Linked DNA regions of Homo sapiens: region 1 is linked to region 2. The links come from fine-mapping of genetic effects on gene expression. Tissue or cell type: whole blood. Region 2 holds a variant in brackets; the other region holds the start of a gene. All regions are shown on one strand. Distances are between the middles of the regions.

Region 1 (8,107 bases), 43 kb after region 2:
ACCACTTACTTACCTTACTGAATCACACCAAGAACAGGTTTTTGGCCTCTCTGTTCAATGCTATATTACTCAGTGAAAAGACAATCACTGATAATCATTCAGTGCTACCCCCAAAAGAAACTCTGCTGCTTTACAAAGCCAAGACATATTCAGCCACTCTCATCTGTCCCTCTAGCCTTCAAAGCCCGTGATGGAGAAAGAACTCCAAAACTTCAGAGGATAATACAAAATCTTAGCTGGTCTTTGCTACCCAGGGCTCGGAGTCTAAAAAACAACTGGCAATGTTTTCACTTAATCAAGCACCTGCTGCATGTTTCTCCTTTACGGGATCTAGATCTATAAAGAATTTGCATCTCCATTGCCAGCATCTCATTCATAAAGTGGAAGTAATAGTAACAATGATCTACCTGAACTTTGGCAATCCCTAGAGGACAGTTTTATTGCCTATGATTAACACTCAAAACCAAGTTAAATCCAAAGAGCTAGAAATACTAGTTATAAAATAACTGTAAAATAAAATAAAATATGGCTATAAAATAAAGCCACAAAAGTTTAGAGCTATAAGAGAACATAGATTATCTAAACCCAGTGTTTATATAATTATGTATTTATGTTTAAGTTGTACTGGGAAAACACTTCTGTTTATAGATATAATAAACATGACTGAAGAAAAATAATACACAAACATTAATATAGTAGTATACCACGCAGCAAGCATCTCATGATATCGGAATGTCTGAAATCCAGGACACAATGGTTGACTCCACCCTCTATTTTTAGAGGTCACCTGACCTGATCAAGTAGTAGTTAGTAGTGGTAGAATACATTAGCAGAGCTGGACGTAGAGAGAACAGAACACCGAGATCCCCATCAGTCTTTCCTCCAGATTACAGGGCTGATCCATTCCATTAGACAGCTTAAATAACACTTCAACTCTATCACTGCAATGTTTCTTCCTACCAAAGAATTCTTGCCCCCAAAAACTAGTGGTAGGAAAACTGCCAGTCACCCAAACGCACCCTCCTCAGATTCAATGCCAAAATAGAAAACACAAGTCCAAATTCTAGGGCTTGGTGCAAGAGGTTCCATTCCGGGCAAGTGAGATGGGGCAGAAGTCAAGAGCTCTGCACTGGCAGGGACTCCATCTCTGGCTCAAACCAGGTGGATTCAAAAGCTCTGGTCCTGCTGCTAGAGCTGTGTGACTCAGAGGTAATGCTTCCCCCAGTCTCTGTTTTCTCATTTGCAGAATGAATCTAAGCACATGAGATAATTATATGTGAAGCAGTGCCTGGAATGAAGTACACCTCTGTAAGCACAGGAGCAGCAAAATATTCACTCCTACACCCTTAGTGCCCAGTGCAGTACCCAGTACACCACAATCACACCAAAAGTTTGCTGAGTGAAGCAGAGAACTCACTAAAGCCAGCCTGAGGTTCAATCAAAATTCCTGGGCCCAACCTGTAAGTGGGCCCCTAACTTACTCCAAACCAGGGACCCCCATCCCCTAAACCAAGAATGGCCTTGATTATTGACAAAGGAAGGGTCTGTTCATATGTTTCAGGTAAGGCACAGCCTAAGAATCTGCCTCTAAGAAGCCTCATCACATCACAGTCCTGTGTTCATTTCATCCCAAAAGATTGGCACTTTGGGCTGCCCTGGCATTCCATTGTCTCTCTCTTCATTTTTAGAAGCAACAAGCTGACAAAATGACATCTCAGGCACCTGACTTTTGTAAGTGCCCTTTAAAGAGGCCTGGGAACAATTCCCACAGCTACGACTCTACTCTGCTAAGGCAAGATTTCTTAGCTGAAAGGTATCACCTACTAAGAAATCCATCACAGAAACAGATACAGTAACAGAGTCAGAGACAATTCCACTATCTGCCTTCATGTGGTTCCTGATTCTTAAAACTAAAAGATGGACTGAGCTATTTTTAAATGGGGAGACTGAAAAGGCACCAAAAACGTTCTCACAATCCAAAGCACTCATCCCTAGAGCACGCTTATTTGGCCAGAAAAAGAAACTCTCTGGCTCTGCAAAAGTGAAGCAGAATGCAAAATTGCATCTCTCCCCTTGTACCAAAAGGAAAAAACGCAAAAATGGTTTTACAAAAGGTCCAAGAATCTTTGAAATACGTTTGAACTTCTTTCTGAGAATTATGGATATTCCTTCTCAGACCTTTACAAGGATAACGGAAGAGGTAAAAAGGAGAGCTTGGGAGCAGGAGAGGGAGAGAGTTGGGATATGTACATTCTATTTTTAAACCCTCGCCCACAGTTTAGAGTAAAGGAACACTCTGATTCTCTACTCCCACCCCTATCACCTTCTGCTAAACACAAGAATCAGAACCTGCGCACGTACTGATTCCAGATTTAGAGATTACTGGCTGCCAATACTCCAAGGAATCGCAAGCTAACCAAGCATTCCACCCAGGGAACCCGGCGGCCTGACTAGGCTGGAGCTGCGTACAGGGAGCGAAGCAGTCACAACCCACCTTTTCCCAAGGGGAGGCAGCGCCCCCTCGGCAGGGCACGCTCCATTCTCACGGTTGGGCACTCAAGGCTGAGCAACTCTGCCCCTAAGGGAGCTGGAGCTGTGGACACGATGGGATCTGCCCGCTGGCTGCGGCGCGCTCGGCACTCTGGCCCCACTGCTGGGACACCTGCGTGCCGCGCACGCCCACGCCCACCCGCGCTGCCCCAGAGCACCACCCGCGCTGGGTCACCTCCCGACCATCCCTGAACGCAAAAGGCGGAGCGACGGGTCTCTCTCTTCATCTGATGGTTGCTGGTTCGCCCGCTTTACGTATCCTTCCTGCCTCGGAGGCGTCGACACCCGTCCCCCAGTGTACCGGGAGCAGAAACCCGGCAGACGCGCGGGCAACCCGGGCTAAGCGCCACCTCCCAGTTCCTCCCGCCCCGGAGCCGCGTCCCCGAGGGGCTCGGGACACTCACTCTTGAGCGCGCTTATGAGTGACTTCCCGTCCTTGATGAGCTCCTTGATGAATTTGTTGGTCTTGTCCAGCTCTGCTTCGTGCGACTTGAGCGTCTCTCGGAAGTGCGGACTATCGAGGCAGCAGTCGCTGAACTCGAGCGCTGGGAGCCCCATGGTGCGCGCGGCGCCCAGCCGGGGGGCGCGCCTCCGCCGGGGCCCGGGCCGCCCGCCGCCCAGAGCACTCACGCGGCGGGACCCCGGCCGGCTCCCCCGACGGCCGCCGGCTCCACAGGTGTGGCGCTGGCTCACTCCGCGCGCGGTGTCCGCCGGCGCGCAAGACTCCCGAACCGAGCTCGGACCCGGCCGAGGTGCTGCTGTTCCGGGCGCGGGCAACGGAGCGGATCGCGAGCAGGAAACGCAGCGCGGACCCGCAGCGGCGCCGGGAAGCGAGCGAGCGGGCGAGCGAGTGCAGACGCCGCCTCCCCGCCTCCTTCGCTAGCTAGCTCTCGGCAGCCTCGAGCGCCCTCTCACAGCAGCCTCGGCCGCCCCGCCGGTGTCTGGGCCGCTCGAACCTGCTAGCGATGACTTAATCCCCGCCGGGCCAATCAGCGCACCCTCCCCTGCCCGACCCTCAGGCCGCCCGAGGACGCCCGGCCCTTCCGCGGTCTTGATCCAATCAAAGGGGCCTGGAGGCAGGGTCTGCGGCTGGGGGCGTGGCCCTCGCCAACGCCTAGGTCCGCAGCGCAAACTCCGCCTCCTCTTGCCCTCCCAGCGTTGCAGACCCCGAAACCTAGGGGTGAGCGTTGCTGTGCACCCGCCCCCGCTACCTTGCCCGCCTGCTCCAGCCCGAATCCGAGCCACGCATGGCGAGTCTGCTGGTCCTGGGGGCCGAAGAGCCTCGATGTGCCAAGCATGAAAAACCTGGGGACTAGGGCTGCAGTTCACCACCGCCTGCCCTGCACTGCGGGGCAACCGATTTTACACTCAAAATACAGCCCCCTGCTCCGGGAGAATCCCGAGCGACCAAACGCTCCTCTTCCAGTCAGGCAGAAAAATGTTATTTGCATCTTAAAATTACCAGCTCTTGCCTGCAGTCTTCCCGCCCCCTACGGTCCGTCCCCCTCACGGCCACTCCTGCTCAGAACCCGCCCACGGTTCCCCTCAGCCGAAGGAGCTCACATCATTACTAGAATTTCAGCCGCCTGTTATTTTCCTGCTCTGCATCTAGCACAATTTTACATAATAAGATGACAGTCTACTGCCTGTCATCCTTCGCTACACGGTAAGCCCCACGAGGGCAAGTGCCCCTGCAATTTTCTTGTCCGCTGTTGCATCCTGGCACCTAGCACAGTGGCTGGCATTTAATAACAGATATTGAGCACTTACTATGTGCTGTGTGTGCTACGGTGATTGATAAATGTAGAATAAATGAATGGATCCTTTCCCAGAGCCATCTCCACCTCCCACGCCCAGTGCGTTGCCCTGTAGTCCCTCTGTTCGACCGCAGGACTCAATTCTGGCATCTCACTCGTTGCACTTGTCAGGCTGGGTCCCACAGGGTGTCTAGTGCTGAATTGTTAACTCCTGGAGGATAGGGACTGTCCTTGAATAAATTATCTCTATGTCTAGGAACCAGCAGCCCTCCTTCAGCTACGTGGGGGCTTCATGTTTGTTTGGGTTGGTTTGTTTTTTAAATAGGTCTGCTATGTGCAGGCACTAGCCTAGATGGTAAGAATACAAAGATGAATAACAGAATGAATTTAGCTGCTGGTGGTATTAGGTGAGATGGAAGCAAACAAGCGATAACCATGCCTTGTGATAGGATAGAAGGCCTGGGTGCTTGGGAACATGGATTTTTCACTCAGGAGGGGTCAGAGGTGTCCCATCTATATTAAGAAAGCAATTAATGTATTAAATTCATAAATGGAGCATGGTGGCTCACACCTGTAATCCATAACTTTTGGAGGCCAGGTGAGAGGATTGCTTGGGGTCAAGAGTTCAAGACCATCTTGGGCAACACAGCGAGACCCCCCCCATCTCTACAAAAAATTGTAAAATAAATAAGTAAATGTATAAATAAGTGAATGTGATCTCTTTGATAGGTGTATCTACAAATTTAGACTTGATAGCAGGTCCAGACAGCTATCTGATAGATAATTACAACCCAAAAACAATTGTTCTTCACTTGCCAAAGATGAGAAAGATCTAGAATGGAAACCCTATGAAAGTAAATCTGTTTAATGCTTTATCTTGAGCACCTAAAGGTAGGTGTTCTGGTTATCTATTAATACAGAATAAATGATACCAAAAGTTAATGGTTTAAGACAACAGCAATCATTTTATTTTCTCTCACAATCTCTGTGGGTTAGAAATTTAGGGAAGCCAAAGGCTTGAGGTCTCTCATGTGATTGCAGTTGGATGGTGACAGGAGCTGGAGGAGTGGATGGTTAGCTGGGCATCCCACTTTTCAGGTAGACTCAGGGCTTCTCCATATGGCCTTTCTCTGTGGCCCAGTTTAGGCTTCCTCCCAGTATGGCAGCCTTAAGGCTCCAGTGTGAACATATACAGCTCACAAGGAGAAAGGTGCATCACCTTTTATGACCTAGCCTTGTGAGGTGAGAGGCCTGCAGGACTTGTTTTCCAATCACAACCCCACTGATCAAACCAGGATTCATTCCAAACGGGATTCAGTGAAGCAGCCAGCAGAAACCAGCAGGCAAGGAAAAAAGACACTTTTAGTTGCCCTCACTGCTCATTAGCATAGAGACACTCCCACCATTGCCATGACAGTTTACAAATGCCATTGCAACAGGCCATGGCAATGGCCTGGAAGTTACCTTATATGGTTCTGGAAACTCCCTGCCTCCTTTCCAGAAAGTTCTAAATAACCCACCTCTTAATTAGCATATAATTAAAGGTAGGTATAGGTACAGCTGCCAACAGCCCTGTACACTGCCCATCCTGAGCACACTCCCTATGGGATAGCCCTGTTCCACAAGGAGCAGCACTGATTCAATGAAAGTTGCTTTCTCTTACCACTGGCTTGCCCTTGAATTCTTTTCTGGGCAAAGCCAAGAAGCCTCCTGGGCTAAGCTGCAATTTTGGGCCTTGCCTGCCCTGAATCACTTGGAAGCCACATACTTCTACCACCTTCATTGGCTACAAGCAACTCATAAGCCCACCCAGCTTCAAAGGAAGGAGATTAGACTGTACCTCTTGATGGGGGAATGACAAGAATGGGAGATATTATAGTAGCTATTTCTGAAAAACATAATCTGCCACAGTGGGCCCAGCATAAATGGTAACATTCAATACATGCTAAATGAATGAAATAAAATGTGATCCACAATTATTTGTTTTATCCCATTGAGGAATAGTAGGCAAATGTGTGTAAAATAATATATATGTATTAATAATAACAACAATAATATATCAGCTATCATTTGTTAAGCTCTCAGTTTATGCCAGGCACTATGGTAAATTATTTACATGCATTTATAGCTGGCATAGTGGCACACGCCTTTAATCCCAGCTACTCAGGAAGCTGAGACACAAGAATTGCTTGAGCCCAGGAGGCAGAGTTTGCAGTGAGCTGAGGTCGTGCCACTGCACTCCAGCCTGGGTGACGGAGAGAGACTCTGTCTCAAAAAACAAACAAAAAAATTATTTACATGCATATAATCCCTACAGGGTGAGACTGGTACTATGATAGTTCCCATTTTTTCAGATAAGAAATTGAGGCCCAGAGTTGTAACTTGAACCAGCTTACCGAGATAATATTAATAATTCTATGTGGCACAAACATATAACTTAATATGCCCATTCACAGACAAATATGTAAATATGTGAATAATGTGTAAATTTCTCATAAATTTAATATGGAATTTCCACAAAAAACCTCCCACACTTTCAGCAGTATTACTAGAAAGAGAGAATCAGAATGCAGCAGTACAGGCTGGGTGTGGTGGCCCAAGCCTGTAATCCCAGCACTTTGGGAGGCCTAGGCAGGCAGATTACTTGAGGTCAGGAGTTCGAGACCAGGCTGCCCAACATGGTGAAACCCCGTCTCTACTAAAAGTAAAAAAATTAGCCGGGTGTGGTGGTGAATGCCTGTAGTCCCAGCTACTTGGGAGGCTGAGACTGGAGAATCGCTTGAACTTGGGAGGCAGAGGTTGCAGTGAGCCGAGATCGCACCACTGCACTCCAGCCTGGGTGACAGAGTGAGACTGTCTCAAAAAAAAAGAAGAATGCAGCAGTACAGAAACTGGCGCATGGAGGGTGCAGTTGTCTTTCTCTTCCCAGAAAATCTGCTCATAAGGGTAGAGATTTTGTATTATTCAATGCAGCAACCCCAGCTTAGAACAGCAATTGGAACTTCAAAGGTGCTGAACATCAATGAGCCGGACACATGTTTAATAAGAAAGAAACAGGACTCATGTGACAACATCAGTTATGGCCATGCACATAAATAGAAGAGAACAGTTAAGCCGCAGAAATCACTTTCATATGAAATAGAGAAACAATTTAGGCAACATTTGGCCTAAATCCTTTGGATGAATGTCTGAATTCCTTAAAATTAGCAATTAGTTCAAACAGTTCTGCTTTCAGTATCAGTATATTTTAAATCTACATTTTTTCTGGCCTCAATGGTCCAAATAACTTTACACCTGCCATGCAATTACCTCCCATTTGTAGAAACTTTACCACTGGCAAAGCACTCCCATGTACATTGTCTCTGAGTCCATATAATCAGAAGTGGGCATGGACCAGTCACACATTGGTTCCTGAACACCAGCTTGTGAACAGATCTGATCCGTGATGAAGCATTCATGGGTCCTTATGTAACTGAGAAGTTCAGGGGTAGATCCAGCTTCAAGGCAGCCTCTGGGGATCTAGAAGATGATAACAGCACAGGTTTCTCTCTCCATCCCCAAGCTGACCTTTGTCTGTGGTGGCTTCAGTCTCAGTGACTCTCTCAGCTTCTCCAAATTACGCCCAGCAATATTAGCAGGAAGAGAGTTTTCTAAGAATTCCAATAGAAATGACAAGACTGGAGTCAAGGATAAAACAGCCCCACTCCAAAAACGTAAAGTACTGGGGTGAAGTTGTTCCACTAAAGGACAAGCACAGCGCATTTAACAGGGAAAACGGGGATCACTGCTGCACAGGCAGA
Region 2 (8,107 bases):
TCTTTCCATCTCATGTGTCTCTTCTTCCTATTTCTTCTGACTCAACTCCTCTTTCTCCAAGGCCCAGGGCGCACATGGCATCTCCTACAAGATGCCTTTGCTTCTCCACTAATGGAGAGTGACTATCCTCCTGTGAATTGTGGCTTCACTCATGTACTCCTCCTATGGCACTATTTAATTGTGTTCTCTATGATACCAGATGCTCCTTAGGGGAAGAGATTGAGCAGGCTTTATCGCTGCAGCCTTCACTGTACCTAACACTCTTTACATCAAAATGATATCCATTCACTCATCAACACATATTTATCCAGTGTCGATCATGCACCAAGTTGCTCTCAGCTGCTCAGTATATGATGGTAAACAAAAAAAGACATGGTTCCTACCCTCATGGGCTTTCCATCTAATGATGAGCCAAACTTCAATCAAATTGTACCCAAATGAGTGTACAGTTAGCAATATCTCTATGCTGTAGAAGGGAAAGAATCAGAGTCCTACAGAAGCACAGAGGGGCTGGACACCATGGTTCACACCTGTAATCCCAATACACTGGAAGGCCCAGGCGGGTGGACGGCTTCAGCCCAGGAGTTTGAGACAGCCTAGGCAACATATCGGGACCTCATCTCTACAAAAATTAAAAAAAAAAAAACAATAAGCATGGTGGTGCATGTCTGTGGTCCCAGCTACTCAGGAGACTAAGGTGGGAGAATCACTTGAGCCCAGGAGGTTGAGGCTGCAGTGAGCCATGATTGTACCACTGTACTCCAACCTGGGTGATAGAGTGAGACCTGGTCTCAAAAAAATAAGAAGAAAAGAGCAGCAGTAGCACAGATGGACCAGGAAGGCTAGCCGGGGAAAGTGAGGCTCGAATGAGTCTGAAAGTGGTGAGAAGGGGAAGTGGCAAAAGTGCTCCAGGTCCTGGGGACAGCCTGTGCAAAGGCCCTGTGGTGGACCAGGGCTGACAGCCAGTGTGGTTGGAGACTGCAAAGGAAGCAGGGGAAGGTGCTAGAAGGTGGCAGGGACATCTCAATAAATGTGTGCAGTGAATAAGAATCCATGACCCTCATCACTTAGCAAACTTTTTTAACCAATAAAACTAACCAACCTTAGATTTATAACAAAACACAAAATATAACTTAAAAAATACTCTTTTCCATTTAAAAGAAATGTCCTCCTTCAGTGTAACTGCTGTTCTCTAAAAAAGACTAAAGTGAGTTCTCATAGCTAAAATAGAAATAGAAAAGCAAGCATAAAAATTATGTAATTCTGGCCAGGCATGGTGGTTCACACCGGTAATCCCAGCACTTTGGAAGGCCGAGGCATGCAGATCACCTAAGGTCAGGAGTTTGAGACCAGCCTGGCCAACATGGTGAAACCATATCTCTACTAAAAATACACTGGCCAACATGGTGAAACCATATCTCTACTAAAAATACAAAAATTAGCCAGGTGTAGCAGCGCTGGTCTGTAATCCCAGCTACTTGGGAGGCTGAGGCAGGGGAATCCCTTGAACCCGGGAGGCAGAGGTTGCAGTGAGCCGAGATCATGCCACCCCACTCCAGCCTGGGTGACAGAGCAAGACTCTGTCTCTAAAAGATAAAAATCATGTAATTCCGTAAGTAATATGATGTTGCTCTATCCCTGAGTCAGGAGCCAGCCAACTGACTAGGGAAACAGCCTCTCAATCATCCTACATTGATAACAAGAGCAGAGGCTAATAACTGGCTAATAACTATTGAGCATTGTCTACAGGCACTAACGCATTATCTCATCTGATTGTCACAACAACCAGTGTGGTAAGTACCAACATCATTACCATCTTACAGATAGGGAAACTGAAGCCCAGAGAGGTTAAATAATTGGCTCAAGGTCACACAGGTGATGAGCAGTAGAGCTAGGTTCTGAATGCGGGTTAGTGGGACTCCGGAGCCTGTACACTTAGTCACCATACTACACTGCCTCACAAGCTAGCTACCATGTCAGTACTTCCAGAATCTTATTTACTTGTTTATCTCACCTTGTTGTACTGAAGATTTAAGCCACTGAGCACCGGCAACACAAAAAAGATAAAAATCATCTCTGAAGCAATGCAGTGGAACTTCTCATGTCAGCTCCCTTCCTGTTCCAGGTCTCTTTCAAAACACTCCAACTCTTCCTCCAATTTTAATAAAGAAAAATTTTCCAGTTCATGGCAATACTTAATATCCTGAGAGAACAGGAATTGGAAACCGATGAATCTCCTTAGGCTACATCCCAGCCAAAGTCAACAGATTCCAAACCTCTCTTGTAGGCAGTCGCTGTTTACAGCACATCTAACAGGAAGAACAGGGAAGTTGCAGATTACCGGAAGGCTCTAGCCATGGTGTTCCCAACTCTTGACAAAGTTCTGAGTCTTGTCTGAAGGACAATATCACACTTTTACTATCAACAAATTCTTCCCCAAACTATTCCTACTCCTCTTTCTCAACTCCTGTCTGAAAGTAGCCAAGACACAAGGGTTAATAAGCAAAGCTTACCTACTTGTGGATAACACTGTCCACCTACTTCAGGCCTGGCCAACCCTCCTGAGGAACAGCCAACTTGCCTAAGCCACCAGTAAGATCTTATTAAACTAGTAATGGTGGCCACCAAGTCCACACCCAAGCCTAAAGCTGGCTGACCTTGTCTTCCCTGCTGGCCCTCAGAGGCCCACCTGAGGAACTCAAGGCTTAGGTAACATGAGTGTATTTTGGAACTGCATTCCTGAACCACACTGTCAAGGGCTGAATTGAGGCCCCTAAAATTCCTATGTTGAAGTCCTCATTCACAGTACCTCAGAATGGGACTGTATTTGGAAATAGAGTCTTTAAAGAGGTAATTAAGGCAAATGAGGTCATTAGGGCAGGCCCTAATACAATATGGTGACCTTATAAGAAAAGAAGATTAGGACACAGGCACAGCAGAGAAAAGACCGTGTGAAGATACTGGGAGAAGACAAGCCAAAAAGAGAGACCTGGGAAGAAAACAGCCCTGCCAAAACCTTGATCTGACTTCTAGCCTCCAGAATTATGAGAACACCAAGTTTTGTTATTGAAACTGCCCTGTCTGTGGGACCTTGTTATGGTAGCCCTAGAAGATTAATACACACACTGTCCAAGTCACCCCTGTCACCCAGTTCCCTCCCACTCTTTGAAGGGCAGAGCAGTCTGGTTTCCTTCTGAAACAGTCAGCCATGTGGCACGGCCGAGCACAAAAGTCCTATCAGGCCACTGAGTGCTGAAGTCAATGGAGACTGACCTGGTATTGCCTTTCAGAGGCTGGGAACCCAGGACAAAATCTTATGTCAATTACACAGAGAGGATAGGTAGAATTTTTCTTTTTAGAAATTATATAGAATTTGGTGGCTCACGCCTGTAATCCCCGCACTCTGGGAGGCCAAGGCGGGTGGATCACGAGGTCAGGAGATCAAGACCATCCTGGTTAACACGGTGAAACCCCATCTCTACTAAAAAACTACAAAAAAAGTTAGCCGGGCATGGTAGCCGGCACCTACAGTCCCAGCTACTCAGGAGGCTAAGGCAGGAGAATGGCGTGAACCCAGGAGGCGGAGCTTGCAGTGAGCCGAGATCGCGCCACTGCACTCCAGCCTGGGCAACAGAGTGAGACTCCTTCTCAAAAAAAAAAAAAAGAAAGAAAAAAAAAGAAAAAGAAATTATATAGAATTAACATGCAGTCAAGCCCTCCCACAGATAATTGATTGCTAAGGCCCAGCATCAATACCCCTGTTTTAGGAGCCAGACACGGTGGCTTATGCCCTCAACTCCAAAGACTCAGGAGGCTGAGGCAGGAGGACTGCTTGAGCCCAGGAGTTTAAGACCAACATGGGCAACATAGCAAGACCCCATCGCTAAAAAAATTTTTTTTAATTAGCTGGACATGATAGCATGTGCCTATAGTCCCAGATACTTGGGAGGCAGAAGAGGGAGGATTGAAGCTGCGCGTGGTGGCTCATGCCCATAATTCCAGGACTTTGGGAGGCCGAGGCAGGAGGATCACTTGAGGCTAGGAGTTCGAGACCAGCCTGGCCAACATGGCAAAACCCCACCTCTACTAAAAATACAAAAATTAGCCGGGCATGGTGGCGCACACCTGTAATCCCAGCTACTCGGGTGGCTGAGGCACGAGAATTGCTTGAACCCAAGGAGGCAGAGGTTGCACTGAGCCAAGATTACGCCACTACACTCCTCTGTCAAAAAAAAAAAAGAGGAAGATTGCTTGAGCCTAGAAGTTTAAGGATGCAGTGAGCCATGACTGCACCACTACACTCTAGCCTGGGCAAAAGAGTGAGACCCCAGCTCTAAAAATATGAAAAAATACCTCTGTATTAGACCAACCATGCTACAGTGAGTTTTCCTGTAAAGAACTGGGTTAAAAAGATCCTTACAGCAACTGCAAGGTCAGGATGTCTGCCCGAACAACCCTCATACTACAGGAAGCGAAGAGGAAGCACT[G/C]GGGGGAAAAGGCAGTAGACGGGGTGGGGAGGGGGAGCCTTTCACAAAAGATCCTTTCCAAAAAACGTCATCCAGGAGATGAGAATGCCAACTCATCACAGCAGCTAGGTGATGAGTAAGCTTATTTCAGGAGGTGACCAGGAGTTCTTCGAGTGCTATGATTAGGTGAGGAGGCTGCAAGCCATAAGAGGTTCCTAGAGCTGGGAGGTTTCAAGAATTACTTAGAGGCCAAGAAATAAGGAGAGAATATTTCAGTTGGGTGCTACTGAAGCCAGAGCAGGAACGGAATGATGAAAATGGGTTCTAAGCCTGGTGCAAGGCTGCGCACAAGAGTATCATAAGTGAAAAGCTAGCATTTATTAAGTAATAGCTGCACGCCAGGCATTGTGCTAATAAGCAGGCTCTGTATGCATTGGCTCACTTAAACTTAACAATAACCCCAGGAGGTAAGTCTATTATTACTTCCATTTAAGAGACTAAAATAAGGCCAGAATATAAGCTCCGCAAAGGCATGATTCTGTCCCTCAGATTGTTCACTAGCAAATCCTTAGAGCCTAGAACAGTGGCTGGCCCACAGCAGGCACACAGTGTTTTTTTGTTGAATACATGAAAAAGATAAGGTACTTACCAACTACACGTGACGGACAGGCCAGGATTGGAAGCCATGCTGTCGGCGTCCAGAGCCCACACTCTCAGCTTCTACTCTATGCCACCCAGGATGGAGAGAGCTTGCTGAAGAGATGGGAAATAAATCTCCTGGCATGTGGACAGCTTGGTTGACCACAGCACATTTCACAGTGTCTGCATCTTCTGCTTCAGCGCTGGCAATATTACTGTATACCCAGCATACAGAGTGAAGTTATTCAAGGGGCCAGTGCCTATAGATGATCAGGAAAAGTGGAAGGCCAGGCATTGTGCTAATAAGCAAAGTCCGTATGCACTGGCTCACTGAAACTTAACAATAACCCCAGGAGGTAGGTCTATTTTTACTTCCATTGGCAGGGCACAGAGTAGCCACAAATCCTCCTTTCCCTCAGTCCTGGAACACTCCCTGGGGCCTCTCTCCAACTTGTGTCATGCCCCACAATTCACTTTAGTGTGGGAGAGGGAGATGGGAGGAAAGGACTGGAAGCGGGTAGATTTATTCATCTGACTCTCCAAGAATATGGTGAATACAGCTGGTACAATCTACAACAGAACTTCCCAAAATGTGGTATGTATATGTCCTTGCATACCACAAATCGCTTTATGTAGGACACAAACACTAGAGTTTACATATCAACGCTTATGGTTACTTACTATTTTGGGCGAATTATACTTGTTCTTTATTAAACGAAGAGTGTCCCTTCAAAAAGAACAAGCACTCCCACTTAAAGAACAATATTAGGTCAACAATGAAATAGGTATTACATCAATGTAGCAAAAAATCAAAACAGAATTGACTACAGTTTCAGAAATACTGGTTTCCTGGAACTTCCTAAGTTCTCTGTGTCAAATGTCCCCATCCCTGCAACTTGCCTGTCCACTCAGGTATGCCATAGTTCAAAAGGAAGAGTTTACAGAGATTAAGTTTTAAATTTTCTATCAAAATCCCTTAATAAATGACTACACACACAAAAAAGAAAGAGATGGGGGAGAGGGGAGAGGAACAGACACAAAAAGGCATGTTCATTAAAATATTATGAAGTTAACAACAGGACTTGACCTGGGGCTGAAGTCATGCCCTCTGCCTGAAGACAGCTGTAACACAGAGCTCTCTTTGATACTACCCTAAATTCCACACTATTCTTTCGACTATTATTGTATACATGGTAGCTTAGCTCAGCCCTGTCCAAAGAATTGTACTGAGGTCTCTGGGACCTGTTCCAACAACAACACACAATGAGGCCTTCTTTCTCTGATAAAGCCAAGAACCCCTCCCTCTGTGATCTGTTCCCCTGCCCCTCCCAGACAAAACTAAAGTATCATTTTGAGAAGAATTCATCAGCCAAATACTGCCTTCTCTTCACCTTCCCTGTTGGAGATGATCAGGTTGCAGGGCAGCTAAGGGTGAGTTGTGCTCTAGGACAGAGCCTAGGGGTCTAGTCTGCTCCAGGGAGAGATAAACACTTTTACTCGCAAATTCATGGCATCTTATCCACAGCTGTAGAAAGGTAAGGCTGAAAGGGAAGCAATGATACTAAAACCTGCACCAGTCCAATGTAAGATCCATGAGAGAAGGGCCTTATCTTATTCATGCTGTATTCCCAGAACCAAATGCAACAGTGTTTAGTGCTCAGCAGGTACACAGTAAATTGGTATTGAATGGATGAATGAAGTGAGCCACTAAGTGGATGAATGAATGAATGAGTGATTGGATGGATGGATGGATGGACAGATGAATGAAGGAGTGGATGGCTCCAGCAGGACTGGCAGAAGTTAAGAGGAGGGAAAGCATGACTGTAAGATTATTTTCTCTCTATCTGCTTGAAAGCTAGCAACTGTATAAATAATGGGACTCCAAAGGAGGACTATTTTTCTCTTTTCACAGCCATCCCTTGCAGGTGGTGGATTAACTGCAGGACTTTTGGCCCCTGAACCACCGGGACTCACTGCCTGGGGCAGCAAACCAAAAGCCATCTTGACTTTCTCCAGGACATATTCAGACACCCCAACTTCTGTCTTGATTGCTAGTGTCCAAAACAGGAAGAACAGAGTGCTGCTGGGAATGCAGAATTGCACCAGCTGATCTGACCCCTTCTTCTAAGAAGCTCAAAGTCCTTCACATCCTGGCTTCTCTCTTGGGGAACTTTTATTTACAGTAGACCTATATTTTTTTCTTTTCTTTTCCTCTCTCTCTTTGCTTATCTGTATTTTCTAATCATTCTACAATGAACAGATTACTTGAGTAATAAAAATGTCTAAGACTGATAAAACACACAAATAAAACCATTCAAAAAAGACACTGAAAACGCACATTTTATAGAGTTCCATTTCAACATTTCTACAGTATAAAATTTAACACTACCATTTCATGCAGTTGCACTCAACTAAGTCCTTTGAAAACCAAGCTGTAAATTTCTGATAAAAGTCAAAGCTCATGACTTAAAATCAGAACAGCCAGCCATACAGGCACTTATCTTATAAAAAGGGGCAGCCATCTGATGGGCAAGGTGCCAGAGTATTAGAAAGGACAAGGACACAAGCTTAATAAGTAAGGTGCCATATATGGATGAAACATATGTTCTCAGTTCAGCTGTGGTAAGAAAAGATGCTCTGCATCTCTCTTCTGGTGGCAAAAACTTCCAGAGCGGCTGACAGGAGCTATGGTACACTCCGCGGTGATAGAAGGGGTTTCTTTCTTGGTGGGGTTGATTGGTCCATCTTGGAGCTCAACCCTAGTCCCAAACAGATGGACCATGCTCTAGGCAGCTCGACCACCAGCTGGGAGGGGTCTCCCATTCCACTCAGTCTCAGAACTCATTGTCAATGTCCAGCCTGCTCCACAAAGTGATAACAAGGAAAGCAGCTGGGCTAGCAATCAAAAGATTGTATTTCTGGCCAGACCCTGCATACCCCACTTAGTTATTCTGTACCTTGGTGACTCCGTGTTACCAAAAGTGAGTGACACTAGCCGTATC

What was found. PIP is the estimated chance that this variant, and not a neighbour inherited with it, causes the effect.
Region 1: ARHGAP26 starts here. The variant in region 2 is fine-mapped to the expression of ARHGAP26 in whole blood (TOPMed, PIP above 0.99).

The regions. Positions count from the first base shown.
Region 1 is chr5:142,765,763-142,773,869 of GRCh38, reverse strand. ARHGAP26 (Rho GTPase activating protein 26) reads right to left here and starts at 3,493. Exons shown (of 23, transcript NM_001135608.3): 1 at 2,955-3,493. The coding sequence starts at 3,108. RefSeq lists an enhancer at 2,019-2,854 and silencers at 3,150-3,269, 3,280-3,689.
Region 2 is chr5:142,808,499-142,816,605 of GRCh38, reverse strand. All of the region lies in intron 1 of ARHGAP26 (Rho GTPase activating protein 26), which reads right to left. Among named protein-coding and RNA genes, the nearest start is that of ARHGAP26, 42 kb to the right of the region's middle. The variant G/C (reference allele first, on the strand shown) is at 4,488.